Regions from separate parts of the Homo sapiens genome. Here region 2 is linked to region 1. The links come from fine-mapping of genetic effects on gene expression. Tissue or cell type: whole blood. Region 1 holds a variant in brackets; the other region holds the start of a gene. All regions are shown on one strand. Distances are between the middles of the regions.

Region 1 (8,100 bases):
CTGGGATTACAGGCATGAGCCACCGCGCCCGGCCTGGGCCATGTGCATTTTTATATTAAGCTTTTTATTAAGTAAACATTTGTAACAATAAAAATTTAAAAAAAGAGATTTAAAACTTCTACTCCTCAAAGACACTGTTACAAAAAAATGAAAAGAAAGACACATATTGGGATAAAACTTTTGCAAAACATATATCTAAACATAAAACAGGCCACGGGCAGCGGCTCATGCCTGTAATCCCAACACTTTGGGAGACCAAGGCAGGCAGATCTCTTGAGGTCAGGAGTTTGAGACCAGCCTGGCCGACATTGTGAAACCCTGTCTCTACTAAAAATACAAAAATTAGTGGGGTGTGGTGGTGCATGCCTGTAATCCCAGCCACTTGGGAGGCTGAGGCAGGAGAATTGCTTGAACCCGGGAGGCAGAGGTTGCAGTGAGCTGAGATTGCACCACTGCACTCCAGCCTGGGCGACAGAGCGAGACTCCGTCTCAAAAAATACAAAATAAATAATAAACATACAACAGAAGTAAAAAAAGAAAAAAAATCTGACAAGGGACTTCTATCTCGAATATGTAAAAGCCCTTACAACTCAACAAAAGATAAAAATGCCAACAACAATGGCAAGAAAAAAAAAACACAAAATGGCTGGGCACGGTGGCTCACACCTTTGGGAGGCCGTGGTGGGTGGATCATTTGAGGTCAGGAGTTCAAGACCAGCCTGACCAACCTGGTGAAACCCGGTCTCTACTAAAAAAACAAAAATTAGCCGGGCGTGGTGGGGCGCTCCTTCAATCCCAGGTACTTGGGAGGCTGAGGCAGGAGAATCGCTTGAACCTGGGAGGTGGAGGTTGCAGTGAACCGAGATCGCAACACTGCACTCTAGCCTGGGCGACAGACGGAGACTCCGTCTTAAAAAGAAAAGAAAAGAAAAGAAAAGAAAAGAGAAAAACACAACACAAATGAACAGACACTTCACCAAAGAAGATACGCAACTGTGGCCAGGCGAGGCGGCTCACACCTGTAATCTCAGCACTTTGGAAGGCTGAGGCGGGAGGATCACTCGAGCTCAGGAGTTCCAGACCATCCTGGGCAACATGGAGAGACCCCATCTCTACTAAAAATAAAAAAATTAAGGCCGGGTGCGGTGGATCACACCTGTAATCCCAGCACTTTGGTAGGCCAAGGCGGGCAGACCACCTGAGGTCAGGAGTTAGAGACCAGCCTGACCAAAATGGAGAAAACCCATCTCTACTAAAAATACAAAATTAGCCTAGCATGGTGGTGCATGCCTGTAATCCTAGCTAATCAGGAGGCTGAGGCAAGAGAATTGCTTGAACTGGGGAGGTGGAGGTTGCAGTGAGCCAAGATCGTGCCATTGCATTCCAGCCTGGGCAACAAGAGTGAAACTCCATCTAAAAAAAAAATTAGCTAGGCATGGTGGTATGCACCTGTATGGTTCCAGCTACTTGGGAGGCTCAGGTGGGAGGCTGGCTTGAGCTCAGGAGGCAGAGGCTGCAGTAAGCTGAGATCCTGCCACTGAACTGCGGCCTGAGCAACAGCGACAAAGTGAGACCATGTCCCAAAACAAAACAAAAAACACCAGTGCTGGGTGCAGTGGGTCACACCTGTAATCCCACTTTGGGAGGCTGAGGTGGGAGGATCCCTTGAGTCCAGGAGTTCAAGACCAGCCTGGATAACAAAGCAAGACACAATCTCTTTTTTGTTGTTGTTGTTTTTTGAGACAGAGTCTTGCTCTGTTGTCCAGGCTGGAGTGCAGTGGTGCGATCTCGGCCTAATGTAGCCTCCACCTCCTGGGTTCAAGCAATGCCTCAGCCTCCCAAATAGCTGGGATTACAGGAGCCAGCCACCACGCCTGGCTAATTTTTGTATATTTTTGGTCTTGCTGTGTTGGCCATGTTGGTCTCAAACTCTTGGCCTCAAGAGATCCACCCTCTGCAGCCTTCCAAAGTACTTGGATTACCGGCGTGAGCCACCATGCCCAGCCACTCTTAATTTTTATTTTTTTTTAAACAGAGTCTCACTCTGGTACCCAGGCTGGAGTGCAGTGACGTGATCTCTACCTCCTGGGTTCAAGTGATTCTCATGTCTCAGCCTCCCGAATAGCTGGGATTACAGATGTGTGCCACTACGCCCAGCTAATTTTTTTGTATTTTTAGTAGAAACAAGGTTTTACCACATTGGCCAGGCTGGTCTCAAACCCCTGACTTCAAGTGTTCTGTCCATTTTGGCCTCCCAAAGTGCTGGGGTTACAGGCGTGAGCCACTGAGACTGGCCTTAATTTTTTTTTTTTTTTTTTTTTGAGATGGAATCTCACTGTTGGCCAGGCTGGAGTGCAATGGCATGATCTCGGCTCACTGCAATCTCTGCCTCGCTGGTTCAAGCAATTCTCCTGCCTCAGCCTCCCGAGTACCTGGGATTACAGGCATGTGCCATCACACTCAGATAATTTTTTTTTAACTTTAAGTCCTGGGATACATGTGTCGAATGTGAGGTTTGTAACATTTTTGTATTTTTGGTAGAGACGAGGAGGTTTCTCCATATTGACTAGGCTGGTCTCGAACTCCTAACCTCAGGTGATCCACCCTCCTCGGCCTCCCAAAGTGCTGGGATTACAGGCATGAGCCACCGCGCCCAGCCCTCAGCCAATATTTTTAAAAATAATTTCATGGTATATCCACACAAGGGAGTATTACTCAGCAATAAAAATGCTTGTTGAGACGGGTGCAGTGGCTCACGCCTGTAATCCCAGCACTTTGGTAGGCTGAGGCAGGTGGATCACCTGAGGTCAGGAGTTCGAGATCAGCCTGGCCAACATGGTGAAACCCTGTCTCTACTAAAAATACAAAAATTAGCCGGGCGTGGTGGTGGGAGCCTGTAATCCCAGCTACTCAGGAGGCTGAGACAGGAGAATTGCTTGAACCCAGGAGGCGGAGGTTGCAGTGAGTGAAGATGGCACCGCTGCATTCCAGCCTGGGTGACAGAGTGAGACTCAGTCTCAAAAAAAAAAAAAAAGTTTGTTGAACAAGTGTATTACAATGTATTCCAAAGCTAACGCATGCAATGCCCAATTTGTTCACTAGATGGCAGCAAGAGCCAAGTCATTTCTAGTTGCTTCCAGGTGGGTCTACTGTGGCTACTCTTGCTTGTCACAGTAAACTGACAGAGCACTGTCCCCAATTAAAGATAGGAAAACAGAGGCGTAAAGAACACTGCTTTGTCAGAGCCAGGTTTCTGGTCTTCCAAATCAACAACCCATGAATGAGAACCCTCCCAGATCTCTTCCCCACACTGTTCCCTTCCCCTAAGTCTGGTAATTTCATCCATTTCCTGAAGTCAGAAGTACTCGGCCCGGGCCAGGTGCAGTGGCTCAAGTCTGTAATCCCAGCACTTTGGAAAGCCGAGGGAGGCGGATCACCTGAGTTCAGGAGTTCGAAACCAGCCTGGCCAACATGGCGGACACCCCCGTCTCTACTAAAAATACAAAAATTAGCTGGGCACCGTCGTGAGTGCCTGTAATCCCAGCTACTCAAGAGGCTGAGGCAGGAGAATAGCGTGAACCTGGGAGGTAGAGGTTGCAGTGAGCTGAGATCGCGCCATTGCACTCCAGCCTGGGCGACAGAACAAGACGCCGTCTCAAAAATAAATAAATAAATAAATAAATAAAATAAAATAAAAATGCAAAAATTAGGCCAGGAGTGGTGGCTCAAGCCTGTAATCCCAGCACTTTGGGAGGCTGAGGCGGGTGGATCACCTGAGGTCGGGAGTTCCAGACCAGCCTGACCAATATGGAGAGACCGCGTCTCTACTAAAAATACAAAACTAGACAGGTATGGTGGCGCATGCCTGTAATCCCAGCTGCTCAGGAGGCTGAGGCAGGAGAATTGCTTGAACCCGGGAGGCAGAGGTTGCAGTGAGCGGAGATCGCGCCATTGCACTCCAGCCTGGGGAACAAGAATGAAACTCCATCTCAAAAAAAAAAAAAACCCCAAACCAAACGAAAACAGCGGATCACGAGGTCAGGAGTTTGAGACCAGCCTGGACAATAGGGTGAAACCCTGTCTCTACTAAAAATACAAAAAAATTAGCCAGGTGTGGTGGCGCACAACTGTAGCCTCAGCTACTCCAGAGGCTGAGGCAGAAGAATTGCTTGAACCCAGGAGGTGGAGGTGGCAGGCAGTGAGCCGAGATTGCACCATTGCACTCCAGCCTGGGTGACAGAGCAAGACTGCTTCTCAAAAAAAAAAAAAAATTAGCCAGGTGTGGTGGCAGGTGTTCCTATAATCCCAGCTACCCCGGGGCTGAGATGGGAGGATCACTTGAGCCTGAGAGGCAGAGGTTGCAGTGAGCCGAGCCTAGATTGTGCCTCTGCATTCCAACCTGAGCTACAAAATGAGACCCTGTATCAAAAACAAAAACAAACCAAATCTCACACAGGTCCATACCAACCAGCCCCTGATCCTCGGTCTGAGGGGCTTGAGAGGGTAGGTTTTGGAGGGGTTGGGGAATGGTGGAGCTGCCCCTTGAACTCAGGATTATCAGGATGATGAAATCCAAAACTGTGGGCCGGGATCGGTGGCTCACACCTGTAATTTTAGCACTTTGGGAGGCCAAGGCAGGCAGATCGCTTGAGGTCG[G/T]GAGTTCCAGACTGGCCTGGCAAACATGGCGAAACTCTATCTCTACTAAAAATACAAAAATTAGCTGGGCGTTGTGGCGTGTGCCTGTAGTCTCAGCTACTCGGAAGGCAGAGGGAGGAGAATCGCTTGAACTGGGAGGTGGAGGTTGCAGTGAGCCGAGATTGCCCCACTGCACTCCAGCCTGGGCGACAGAGCGAGACTCCGTCTCAAAAAAAAAAAAAAAAAAGAAAAGAAAAGAAAAAAGAAAAAAAAAAGAAAAAACTGAGGTCCCTGTGTACAACTGGAGGAGTACATATGGGGAATGCCTAGGGCTTGTTTATATTATTAAGAGCAGTCGGCCGGGCGCGGTGGCTCATCCTTGTAATCCCAGCACTTCGGGAGGCCGAGGCGGGAGGATCACGACGTCAAGAGATCGAGACCATCCTGGCCAACATGGTGAAACCCCGCGTCTACTAAATATACAAAAATTAGCTGGGCGTGGTGGCGCGCCTGTAGTTCCAGCTAGTCGGAAGGTTGAGGCAGGAGAATCGCTTGAACTCAGGAGGCGGAGGTTGCAGTGAGCCGAGATCACACTACTGCACTCCAGCCTGGCGACAGAGGGAGACTCTGTTTCCAAAAAAAAAAAAAAAAGCGCAGTCCCCTTGACTTGGACAGGAGCTTTTGGGGAATTTATGCTCTCCATTTTGTGCTCAGAGGGTGGAAATGACTTCCGGCCTACTTTTCTGCCTCCTCCTGTTGCTGTGATCAGTGTCTGATCTTTACATTTTTCAATCCTGGAGAACTTCCTCAACTCCAGGAACTACGTAGCCCCTGGCGAATGCCCAGCTCCTACTCTTTTTTTTTTTTTTTTTTTTTTTAAGACGGAGTCTCGCTCTGTCGCCCAGGCTGGAGTGCAGTGGCCCGATCTCACCTCACGGCAAGCTCCGCCTCCCAGGTTCACGCCATTCTCCTGCCTCAGCCTCACGAGTAGCTAGGACTACAGGCGCCCTCCACCACGCCCAGCAAATTGTGTGTGTGTGTGTGTGTGTGTGTGTGTGTGTGTGTGTGTGTGTAGTAGAGACGGGGTTTCACCGTGTTAGCCAGGATGGTTTCAATCTCCTGACTTCGTGATCCGCCCGCCTCGGCCTCCCAAAGTGCTGGGATTACAGGCTTGAGCCACCGTGCCCAGCCTTTCTTCTTCTTTTTTTTTTTTTTTTGAGACAGTTTCGCTCTTGTTGCCCAGGCTGGAGTGCAGTGGCGCAATCTCAGCTCACTGCAACCTCCGCCTCCCGGGTCCAAGCGATTCTCCTACCTCAGCCTCTCGAATAGCTGGGGTTACAGACATACGCCACCACGCCCGGCTAATTTTGTATTTTTAGTAGAGATGGGGTTTCTCCATGTTGGTCAGGCTGGTCTCGAACTCCTGACCTCAGGTGATCTGCCCACCTCGGCCTCCCAAAGTCCTGGGATTATAGGCGTGAGCCACTGTGCGTGGCCCCCAATTCCTACTCGTACTCCTTTGCTCTCCAGTAAAGTATTTGTGCTTCCACAGAACCTTCTGCTTTGGAAAAACAGAGACCTTTCTCCATACGAAACTGACTGGGCATCAATTCAGAAGACACTTAAGCAACTTAGGAGAGCACCTAGCTCAGCTTCTTTCATAACCAGCGAGACAGATACCCCATCCCCCATTAGATCACTTCAAGGGAAGAGAAAGCTCCTGTGGCCAAGGCCTATACAGGCTGGGTAGGTTGGGGGTTGGTGTGCTGCTGACCTGCCGGGCCATTGCTTCATCTATCAGAACATTCTAGACATTGAAGAAACAGCAACATAGGGGTTGAAGTGTTGACTGACTAGGATTCAAACCTCAGCTCTGCTGCGTTGTCAAAAGGGGCCCAATCAGAGTCTACCTCTCCATTTGCAAAATGTAATACCATTAAAAAAAAAAAAAAAGGTAGTTCTGCTTCTGAGGCCCCTCCATTAGGCTAAGGGTGTGGCCAGTCACAGGTTCCCCAGGCTGGAAGATTCTTCAGACGTGGGTCCCTCTCTCTGGTAGGTCTGGGTTTACTAGAATGCATCTCAAACTCCAATAAGCAAGGTCTGACTTTTCAGGGAGATCTTAAGGGTAAGGAGGGCCAGGGAGGGTATTTCACCTGAGATCCCAGCCAGTCCTTCCAACAGCCAGATGCTGCTACTAATCCCACAGCACGTTCAAAGGGACAAAAGGGGACCAGTGACAACTGATTAAAGGAAAATGTGATCCTGAGTGACCCAGGACCTTGGGACTCTGAGGGGGAACCAAAGAGCTTAACTGGTTTAAAAACTTAAAAGGATCGGCCAGGCTTGGTGGCTCACACCTGTAATCCCAGCACTTTCAGAGGCCCAGGCGGGTGGATCACACGAGGTCAGGAGTTTGAGACCAGCCTGGCCAATATGGTAAAACCACGTCTCTAACTGAAAATACAAAAATTAGCCAGGCGTGGTGGTGTGCACCTGTAGTCCCAGCTACAGGGAGGGTGAAGCAGGACAACCACTTGGACCCCAGAAGTGGAGGTTGCAGTTTGCAGAGATCATGCCACTACACTCCAGCCTGGGGGACAAAGTGAGACTGTCTCAAAAAAACAAAAAAGAGAGCTTTCCAATGACACACACACCCCGCCCCATTTCTCCCCCAGCCCAGCTCACAGCCAATTACTAAATAGTGGAAAGGAGGCTACTTAAAAAGAAGTTCCCTATTTTCCTGTGGGGGTTACTGGGCTTTTTAGTAGGCCACTCACCCACTACCCTCGCACCAATCCCCCAAAGTCCGTACCCTACTTGAAGATTATGCTGTAATTATGGGTGCTGTGTTTATAGACCACAGATTTAACAGAACAAGCCCACAGAACACCCATCTTTTTTCCCCAATCAAGATTTTTTTATTCACAAAAGAACCACAACAATTTAGAGCTTCTCCATTTTTATTACACAAAATTGTTAAGTTTTCAGCAGTAGGGCTTCTCAAAACACCAGCTGCAGGCTATTACCTGAAAAAGACAAGGCAGTTATATTAGGTTCTCGTGTAAATATGAATATACAATCAAGTCAAGCTCCTGACAAATTATACATCAAGGATGTATATAGTTCAAAGATATTGTGCTGTTACCTCCCACCTCCCCAAAACTCCAAGAACTAGCACCTGCAGAGAAAAGGAGAAATACAGAAAGAGTCCTGAAGACAGATTAGTAGTCAAAGCAAAGACGCCGCAGGGATTTGAACCCCGTCCTGGAAACCAGGAGTGCCAACCACCAGCATCTTTTGCTTTTTTTTTTTTTAAGCTAGAAAAAGGCCAAAAAGCAAAACCTGAGAAAACAATACGTGTTGTTTTCTCAGGAAAAGAAAAACCTTCATGACCCTACTGAAGAGCATTGGAGATCAGCTTCCGCTAAGATGCTAGCTTGGCCAAGTCTGTTATGTTCACCTGAA
Region 2 (8,097 bases), 48 kb before region 1:
CTTGAGGTCAGGAGTTTGAGTCCAGTCTGGCCAACATAGTGAAACCCCATCTTCACTAAAAATACAAAAGAATTTAGCCAGATGTGGTGGCATGAGCGTGTAGTCCCAGCTGATTGGGGATGCTGAGGTATGAGAATCGCTTGAACCCGGGAGATGAAGGTTGCAGAGTGGAGCCGAGATCGTACCACTGCACTCCAGCAGAGCAAGAGCTTGTCTCCAAAAGAATCCAAAAAAACCCCAAAAATCCTAAAGTTAGCGAAGCATGGTTGTGCACCTATGGTTCCACCTACTGAGGCGGCGGTGGGAGGGGGGGTTTAGGTGGGAGGATCCCTCGAGGCTGCTTAAGGGATGTTGAGGCTGCAGTGAGCCAAGATCATGTCACTGCACTCCAGCCCTGGCACAGAGTGAGACCCTGTCTCAAAAAAAAAAAAAAAAAAAAAAAGTGTGCTGGCAGATTCTAGGCAAATGAGGTGCCACATGTAGTGATGAGGTTAGAAAAGATGTTCAGGCCAAAGAGACCATGTGTGTTGGGCTTTGTCAGCTTGCCCTGCAGACCCCTTCTGCATTCCTGACCTCCCTGCTGAGCTGGAAAGCTAAGCTCCACCTGCTGTACCCCCAGGCCCCTCAGCCCACAGGCTTTCTTCTGGGTTCAGCCCACGGTTGGCCCAGCTGGAGACCCGTGGCTAGGAAGAGATTAGGGTGATAATTGTTCCCCCAGCGCCCTCCCTGCAGACTGCAGAGGGCCAGGGGCTGCTGCTCTGCTTCAGGCCACACCTCTCAGGCACCCTCCCTGGTTATGCCAGTGGAGCAATGTGCACTGGAGTGATGTCCCTCTGTTGCTAGCCCCAGTGGTTTCAGCTATTTCCTGCGGAGGCCCTGAGAGCTGAAGGAATTTGGTTGGATATCATTTGAGTTGGGCATCATTACTGGGCTGGACACTTTCATTGATCCTTCTCACTGAGTCCCCTCATCAGCCCCTGAAGAAGGGCTGTTATCCCCCCATCATACTGGCAGCAGCTTTAGACACCGAGGGCCACACCGTCCTCCTGGCTCTTCCCCACCACACTCCTGGTTTTCCTCTCTGCTCCCTCCAGCTGCTCTTTCTGGTCTTTCGCCTGACTCCGCCTCCTCTCCCTGCCTGACTCCGCCTCCTCTCCCTGACCCGGGAACAGTGATCTCCCTGGGCACCCTGGGCTCTCTTCTCTCCATAGTAAGCCCACCCTTTCCCGCTGTCGTAGATGCCCCCTGTATAACCCCAAGCCTCTGTCTCCAGGCCAGACATCCTGTCTGAGCTGCAGACTCCCGGGTTCGGGCACCTCCACTTGGATGACTCACAAGCATCTCAAACTCAGCAGGACCAGAACAGAGCTGTGGACCCTGCCCCATGTTTCCAGCTCCTCTGCCTCCCCTCTTCTTCGCCCATCCAGAGATCAGGCCAGGAATCTGGGGGCCATTCATGCCACCTACCTCTCCAGCACCCCTACTTCACCCAGTCTTTACATCTCCCCTCCCAAATACATCTCTCCCAGGGCCAAGTGAGATCTCTCTCCTGGGATGAAGGCAGAGTGCCCGCTCTTGCCCTGACACAGTCCCACTGCAATGAGAATAAAAGCAAATTCCTCACCATGGCCGGCCCCTCCCACCACCACTACACCTTCGGCTCTCCCTCTCCACCACACCCTGTTGTTCCACTGGCCTTCCCTCAGTTCTCTGGATAGCCTCCCCCTGCAGCCTCCCCTGAGGTCAGATGCCCACAGGTGTGACTCACTCCTACTCATCTTCCAGCTTCCGATGGAAGACTCTCTTTGTCTCCCAGGTCCCAGCCCTCTCCTGTCCTGCTTCCCTGCCCTTCTCTGTCACGGTACCAGCCTCTGTTGTAGCCACAGTTCTGTGTGAATTGATCTGGCACATATCCAGCTCTCCTAGTACAGCAGCTCCAGGAAGGCAGGACTGGTTCTATTTGTGGCCAAGAGCTTAGGATGTGGTGGAGTCTCAGTTTGTTGAGTGAATTTTTTACATTTATTTTTTAATTTTTTGTTTTTTATTACCAGTAGTTGAACATAGATGTTGAGTGAATAGATACCCATCTCACAAGCAAGGAAACTGGGGCTTAGAGACAGTAAGAATCCAACCCTGGACTGTTTGACTGTGCTGTGCTCCATGGTGAGCCACAGCCAGCTCTAGGCAGAGTCAGGACAGGTTCAGATGAGTGTTAGGAAAAAATGAGTATACAATGCTCAGCCCTGTGCCTGGCAGGTGGTCGGCACCTAGCATTATTCCCTGCCTCCGTGTGGACCAGGGCCCCAAGAAGCAGGGGCTTGCCCCTCACACCCCATCCTGGATTCCGGCAGCAGGGATCCCTGGGGACATGTGATTGTCCCTCCCAGCCCTGCACCGCTTAGTAAGGGGGACTTACTAAGCGTCCCCCTAAAGCTACCCACATCAACTTACGCTCAAAGTAAAAACAGAGTTCCTTGGACAGGTGTGCCTGAAAGTGAGTCCCTGAACCTCCTCTCCCCAATTAGACTGCTGCCCCGGGTGCTGTCCGGGAGAGGGTCTGGTGCCGCCCTGACTTGGCAGCGCTTTTCCTGGATGTGCCCTAGCCGTCCCCACCTCCTGCTGAGTTCTGTGAGTCAGAGACGGAACCCTGGGGTCTCCTGGCAGGCCCCACAGTAAGGCCTGGGCCCCCGCACGTTGCAGCCTTTCCTTCCAGACCAGCGGACAAGCCTGGTCTGGAACTATGCTCCTCTCCAGCCATGGCCAACCTGAAGACCCCCACCCCCAGCCGCTGCCAGCCCCTGCCCTGGGGCTCTGCTGTGCCCCTCTCCAGCCCCTGGGCCCTCGGACAGCGCCCCCGTCCTCCCGGCTGTTAGCCTGGGAAGGGGGCCAGGCCCTGAGCTCAGACCTTGGCGATTCCAGAGTGTCTGAGGCCCAGAGCCAGCCCCGCCAGCACGGCCAGACGAAAGGAAAGGGGGGAGGTGGCAGGGTGGGCACCAGGAAGCCATTCCGAGGGGGCTGGCAGGGAAGCTGGGTTCTAGCTTTGTTCTTTCTGCTCCTCTTCTGGACCCCACAGACTTCCTCCTGGGACCTCCGTGAGCCCTGGCCAAAGGCTGTCCCCACCCTTTAGCCCTTTCCTCAGAGGGGATTGGACCAGCACTAACGAGAAGTTACTTTGGGGCCCTGAGACCCCCACGTTTGCAAGGGAGGCTGGGAAAGAGCTGGAAGGCCTGGGCTCCGGCTCCACCCGGCCTCCATCGTCAGTGTGACCCGGCAGGGCCACCTCTCTCCCTCAGCCTCGGTATCTCGCTCTACGCAGGCCTCCCCGCCCCGCCCCGCCCGGAGGAATCCGCGGCCGGCCAGACGGTCCCAGGTGAGGGCCCTCTGGAAAGGGCCCAGCGCGGCCGCGGGTTCCGGCGGGGGCGGGCATCTGGGGTGGGGACTGTCCCCGCGCCACCCCCCAGCCTCCGCCAGCCTGCACACCCTCGCTTCTCCAGGCGGCAGAGGCGACGCTTTAAACAACAAAAAAAAAAAAACTGTGTCCCTGGCCCGGGGCCAGCGTCCCAGCCCCCCTCGCCGCCGCCGCGCCGCGCTCCAGCCAGGGAAAACAACTGCTCACTTCTCCCTGAGCCCTCCCCGCGCGCTCCCTGCCTCCCCGCGGCCGCGGGAGAGGAGCCCGGCCAGGGGGAGGCGCGGAGCGGGCCGGCCGCCCGGCCTTCCTCTCCCTCGCTCCTCCTCTCCGCCTCAACTTGCTCCGGCCTCCTCGCTCCTGCCTGAGTTCGGGGCCTGGTCTGGGCTTCGTCCTGGGGCTGGGAAGTTTCTGCGCTCCCCGCTGTCCAGTCTGCATCTCCGCGCCTCCCGCCGGGCCCCCGCGGTCCCCTCCCGCCCGCTTCCCCCGCTGCCCTCCCTCGCTGCCCCCTACCCTCTCCCGGGGCTCCCGGCCCTCTACTCCCTTCGGGCGCGGGCCCCTCGCCCCGCCCGGGCGCGCCCCCCCTCCCCCGGGTCCTGCGGCCCCGGATGCCCGGGCCCCGAGGGGCTGCTGGCGGCCTGGCCCCTGAGATGCGCGGGGCGGGGGCGGCGGGGCTGCTGGCGCTGCTGCTGCTGCTGCTGCTGCTGCTGCTGGGCCTGGGCGGCAGGGTCGAGGGGGGGCCGGCCGGCGAGCGGGGCGCAGGCGGGGGCGGGGCGCTGGCCCGCGAGCGCTTCAAGGTGGTCTTTGCGCCGGTGATCTGCAAGCGGACCTGTCTCAAGGGCCAGTGTCGGGACAGTTGTCAGCAGGGCTCCAACATGACGCTCATCGGAGAGAACGGCCACAGCACAGACACGCTCACGGGCTCCGGCTTCCGCGTGGGTGAGGGCCGGGGGCACGGCTGGGGGCAGGGGAAGGACAGGCACCAGGCCCGGTGGGAGAGCTAGTGGGGTCTTGGCCTTAGAGACTGGGGGCTGAGGGTATAAAGGGCAGAGATCCGAGGGCCTGGGGGACCAGGGGCCTCAGGGAACTTGGGAGGCTGGAACTCTGGGGGCCAGAGTTGGAGGGCTGCATGGAGGCCTGGACTTTGAAGCTTTGCGTTAGGGTTGGGGCCTAAGGGGTGGGGAAATGCAGAGGTCCTGGATGACACTGGCTTCCCAGAAGGTGCTGAGTTCTGAGCAGGAGCACACAGGGTTTTTGAGGAATGTGAGCCGGGGACAGGAAGCCTCAGAGAAGGGCTAAATATTCCCGCAAGAAGCAGACTTGCTGGAAGAAACAAGAAAAGTCTTTACAAAATGTCTAAAGTAGGGCCTGCCAGAGTAGACACCTGCATTCCCTGGGAGGAGGAGCTAAGGTCAGGGCTGGGGATGGGAGCCGGCTACTGGCAAGGTCTGAGTAGGGAGGGTGTTGAGGCCTAAAAGTAGGGTGCAGGCCTGAAGGTAGGGACTAGTTCGGGGTTCTCAGCCTCTCCTTTTCCAATGCCTCCCCATAAGCTCCTAACATCCTGCCTCAGAGGCCCTCAGGGCCCCCCTCATCCTCCCCCAAGCCCCTACACCCTCCCCAGTTCAGCTTGGAGTCCACCCCCTCCCCAGCATCTCTCTTTAAAGGGCCAGGCCTGGGGCTCAGTCATCCTCCTGCTAGGCCCCGTGGGCCAGGCTCGGGGAGGTGTCCCAGCAGTAATTACCCTCCTGGACAGGGTAATTAGGCCAGGCCCAGGATGGCACCAGCAAAACAGCCCCTCTTACACATTCCTATATTCACTCTCCCACTCACAGAGCTAAGGAACCCCACTCATGTGGCTCAAATTTGTCATGAGATGGGGTGTGCGTGCGTGTGTCTGTGCGCATATTGCCCCTGTGTCTGGGGTCATGCCATGGGCATGGCGTGGCACACTGTGAAGTACCCGTCTTTGTGTTGTCTTGGGTGTGTGTCTCTAGTCGCTGTTAGAGAGTATGTGGGAATGTTTTTGTTTTTGTGTTTTTGAGATGGAGTTTTGCTCTTGTTACCCAGGCTGGAGTGCAATGGCGCAATCTCAGCTCACTGCAACCTCCCCCTTCTGGGTTCAAGTGATTCTCCTGCCTCAGCCTCCCAAGTAGCTGGGATTACAGGCATGCGCCACCACGCCTGGCCAATTTTTTTGTATTTAGTAGAGATGGAGTTTCACCATGTTGGTCAGCCTGGTCTCAAACTCCTGATCTCGAGTGATCTACCTGCCTCGGCCTCCCAAAGTGCTGGGATTACAGGTGTGAGCCACTGCGCCCGGCCAAATGTATGGGAATGTTTATGTGAACCTGTGTTGGTGTCAGGATGAGTCTCTGTGTGTGTGTGACAAGAGGACTGTGGGTGTGAGTGTACGTGTGTCCATCTCCCAGGCTCCCTGGCCATCCTGCCCAGGCTGCTGTCTCCATCTGTGCTGCCCACATCCCCCAGGCTCGGTGCCCAGGCCACAGTGGGCGGGTGTCATTGGGAGGTCACTCTCACCGCTATGAGTGACTCACTGGCAGAAAGGAAAAAGAGAATCCTACCTCCCCCCGCCCAGGACACACCCCTCTGCTCTGTGAGGCCTGGCCCCAAGAGGCCAGGCAGGATGGGCTGGGCTGGGATGTGCTTAGCCTGACCCTGAGGGCCATGGATATGGGCTGTCCCTGTGAGGCCCTTCTGGCATCCAGGAGAGCAGCACCCCCGCCCTCCTGCCCTCCTGCCCTGGGAAGTGAGGGCAGCCATGGGGTGGGCAGGAGAAGGGCTGGGGCTTTGGGATGAGTCAGAGCCCCAAGGCTGGTAGTAGCACAGGTTGAAGGTGAGTATGGGACAGAAACAGACAGAGGTCCCATCCTCTCCCTCAGTCATTCTTTCATTCATTCCCCCGAACCCCCTGTGGGACCCAGAGCTGAGGCCAGCCTGGCCCTGCCTTCCAGAGCACCCTCTATAAGGAGGCAGACAGACAAGAACATAGCCAAGCAGGTGCCAGGCAGAGCTGGCCAGTGGGTGGTAAGGCAGGAGAGGGAGCTCAGGGGGGCCGGATAGGAGGAAAGCCTCCCTCCTGGTGGAGACACTGAGCTAGGAAGGATGAGATCTGCATATATAGAGAGGGGGGGGACCTGGGGCCCTGTTGTGGAGGGAAGGGCATGGATGAGGCCAGGAGGCAGGAGGCAGGCACATTTGCAAGAGGGAGATGGGTCCTGGGGTGTGCAGTACACAGGGAAGGAGCAGAGGGGGATGGGCTGAAAAGGTTCTGGTCCATGGAGTGAGCTTCTGCCTGAGGCAGGTTTCTCTGGGACACTGAGATTGTGGACCAGCAGGAGAGGCTGGAAGCCAAGGAGGGGTCTGGGTGGCCAGGCCTGGGCCAGGGCAGGAGCAGTGGCCCTAGGGAGGAGGGGAGGCAGGTTCATGGGACATTAGAGGCTGTAACTGGGCAGGGGAGAGCAGGAGGGACGGAGCCGTCGGGGCTCAGCTGTGGATGCCTGGTGGCCAGGTGAAGAGGAGGTGGGGAGGCAGGATGCTGACTTCTGACAGTATGTCCTGGGCAGAGGTGCCTGAGAGAGCCCTGGAAAGGCTGGGGGCTGTGTCTGTGTCTTGAGATGTGGACATCTTTGGCAGTGGTGAGGTGGGCGCCCCAGGATGGTGAAGAGGGAGAGGGTGGAGAGCAGGCAGAGAGGACTGAGGCCTGAAGGAGGGAAGGGTTTATGGGAGAAGAGGAGGAGGCGCCAGGGACGGAGCCAATACCTTTGGAAGGCTCAAGGGGAAAGCCAGATCACCATAATTATTTGCTACCACTTATTAAGCACCCTTTGTGTACCAGGCCCTGGGGTAAGCATTTGTACAGCCCTTACCTCATCTAACCCACACATCTCTACAGATGAGGACGCTGGGGCACAGGGAGGGGACGTGAGTTGCTCAGGGTCGCACAGCTGGCACATGGCTTAGCGAGGATTTAAATCCTGGACTTGAGACTCCAGAACCCAACATAGGTGTAAGGATGTTGGGGAACCTAGAGAGGGCAGTTTCCCTATGTAGGATGTATCTCAAAACCTGGCTTCCCAAGAGGACAGAGCCAGTGGGTGGCAAGGAAGTAGGGAGGAGGGGAAAGAGACAGGATGTGGGTGAGGGCCTGACCCCACTCTTCTCCCCAGTGGTGTGCCCTCTCCCCTGCATGAATGGCGGCCAGTGCTCCTCGCGAAACCAGTGCCTGTGTCCCCCGGACTTCACTGGGCGCTTCTGCCAGGTGCCCGCAGGAGGAGCCGGTGGGGGTACCGGCGGCTCAGGCCCCGGCCTGAGCAGGACAGGGGCCCTGTCCACAGGGGCGCTGCCGCCCCTGGCTCCGGAGGGCGACTCTGTGGCCAGCAAGCACGCCATCTACGCCGTCCAGGTGATCGCTGACCCTCCTGGGCCCGGGGAGGGGCCTCCTGCCCAGCACGCAGCCTTCCTGGTGCCCCTAGGCCCGGGACAGATCTCAGCAGAAGGTACCAGGCAACTGGCAAACCCGGGAAGGTCGCCAGTGGGTGGGCACTAGGGTGGCCAGGGCAGGGCAGGTTCAGCCCTGGAGGAGCTCAGCGCGGTGACCCGCGGCGCGGTGCGGGCAGCCCTGAGGCCACCGCGCCCGCCCCCAGTGCAGGCCCCGCCCCCCGTGGTGAATG

What was found. PIP is the estimated chance that this variant, and not a neighbour inherited with it, causes the effect.
Region 2: it holds the start of LTBP3, and the variant in region 1 is fine-mapped to the expression of LTBP3 in whole blood (TOPMed, PIP above 0.99).

What each region holds. Positions count from the first base shown.
Region 1 is chr11:65,505,947-65,514,046 of GRCh38, reverse strand. It overlaps MALAT1 (metastasis associated lung adenocarcinoma transcript 1), which reads right to left. Exons shown (of 1, transcript NR_002819.5): 1 at 7,531-8,100. It also overlaps TALAM1 and MASCRNA. Among named protein-coding and RNA genes, the nearest start is that of MALAT1, 11 kb to the right of the region's middle. RefSeq lists enhancers at 6,186-6,255, 5,972-6,653, 6,366-6,675, 7,176-7,275. The variant G/T (reference allele first, on the strand shown) is at 4,657.
Region 2 is chr11:65,553,877-65,561,973 of GRCh38, reverse strand. LTBP3 (latent transforming growth factor beta binding protein 3) reads left to right here and starts at 3,615. Exons shown (of 28, transcript NM_001130144.3): 1 at 3,615-4,345; 2 at 7,594-7,923; 3 at 8,071-8,097. The coding sequence starts at 4,015. RefSeq lists an enhancer at 182-845 and silencers at 3,337-3,496, 3,547-3,786.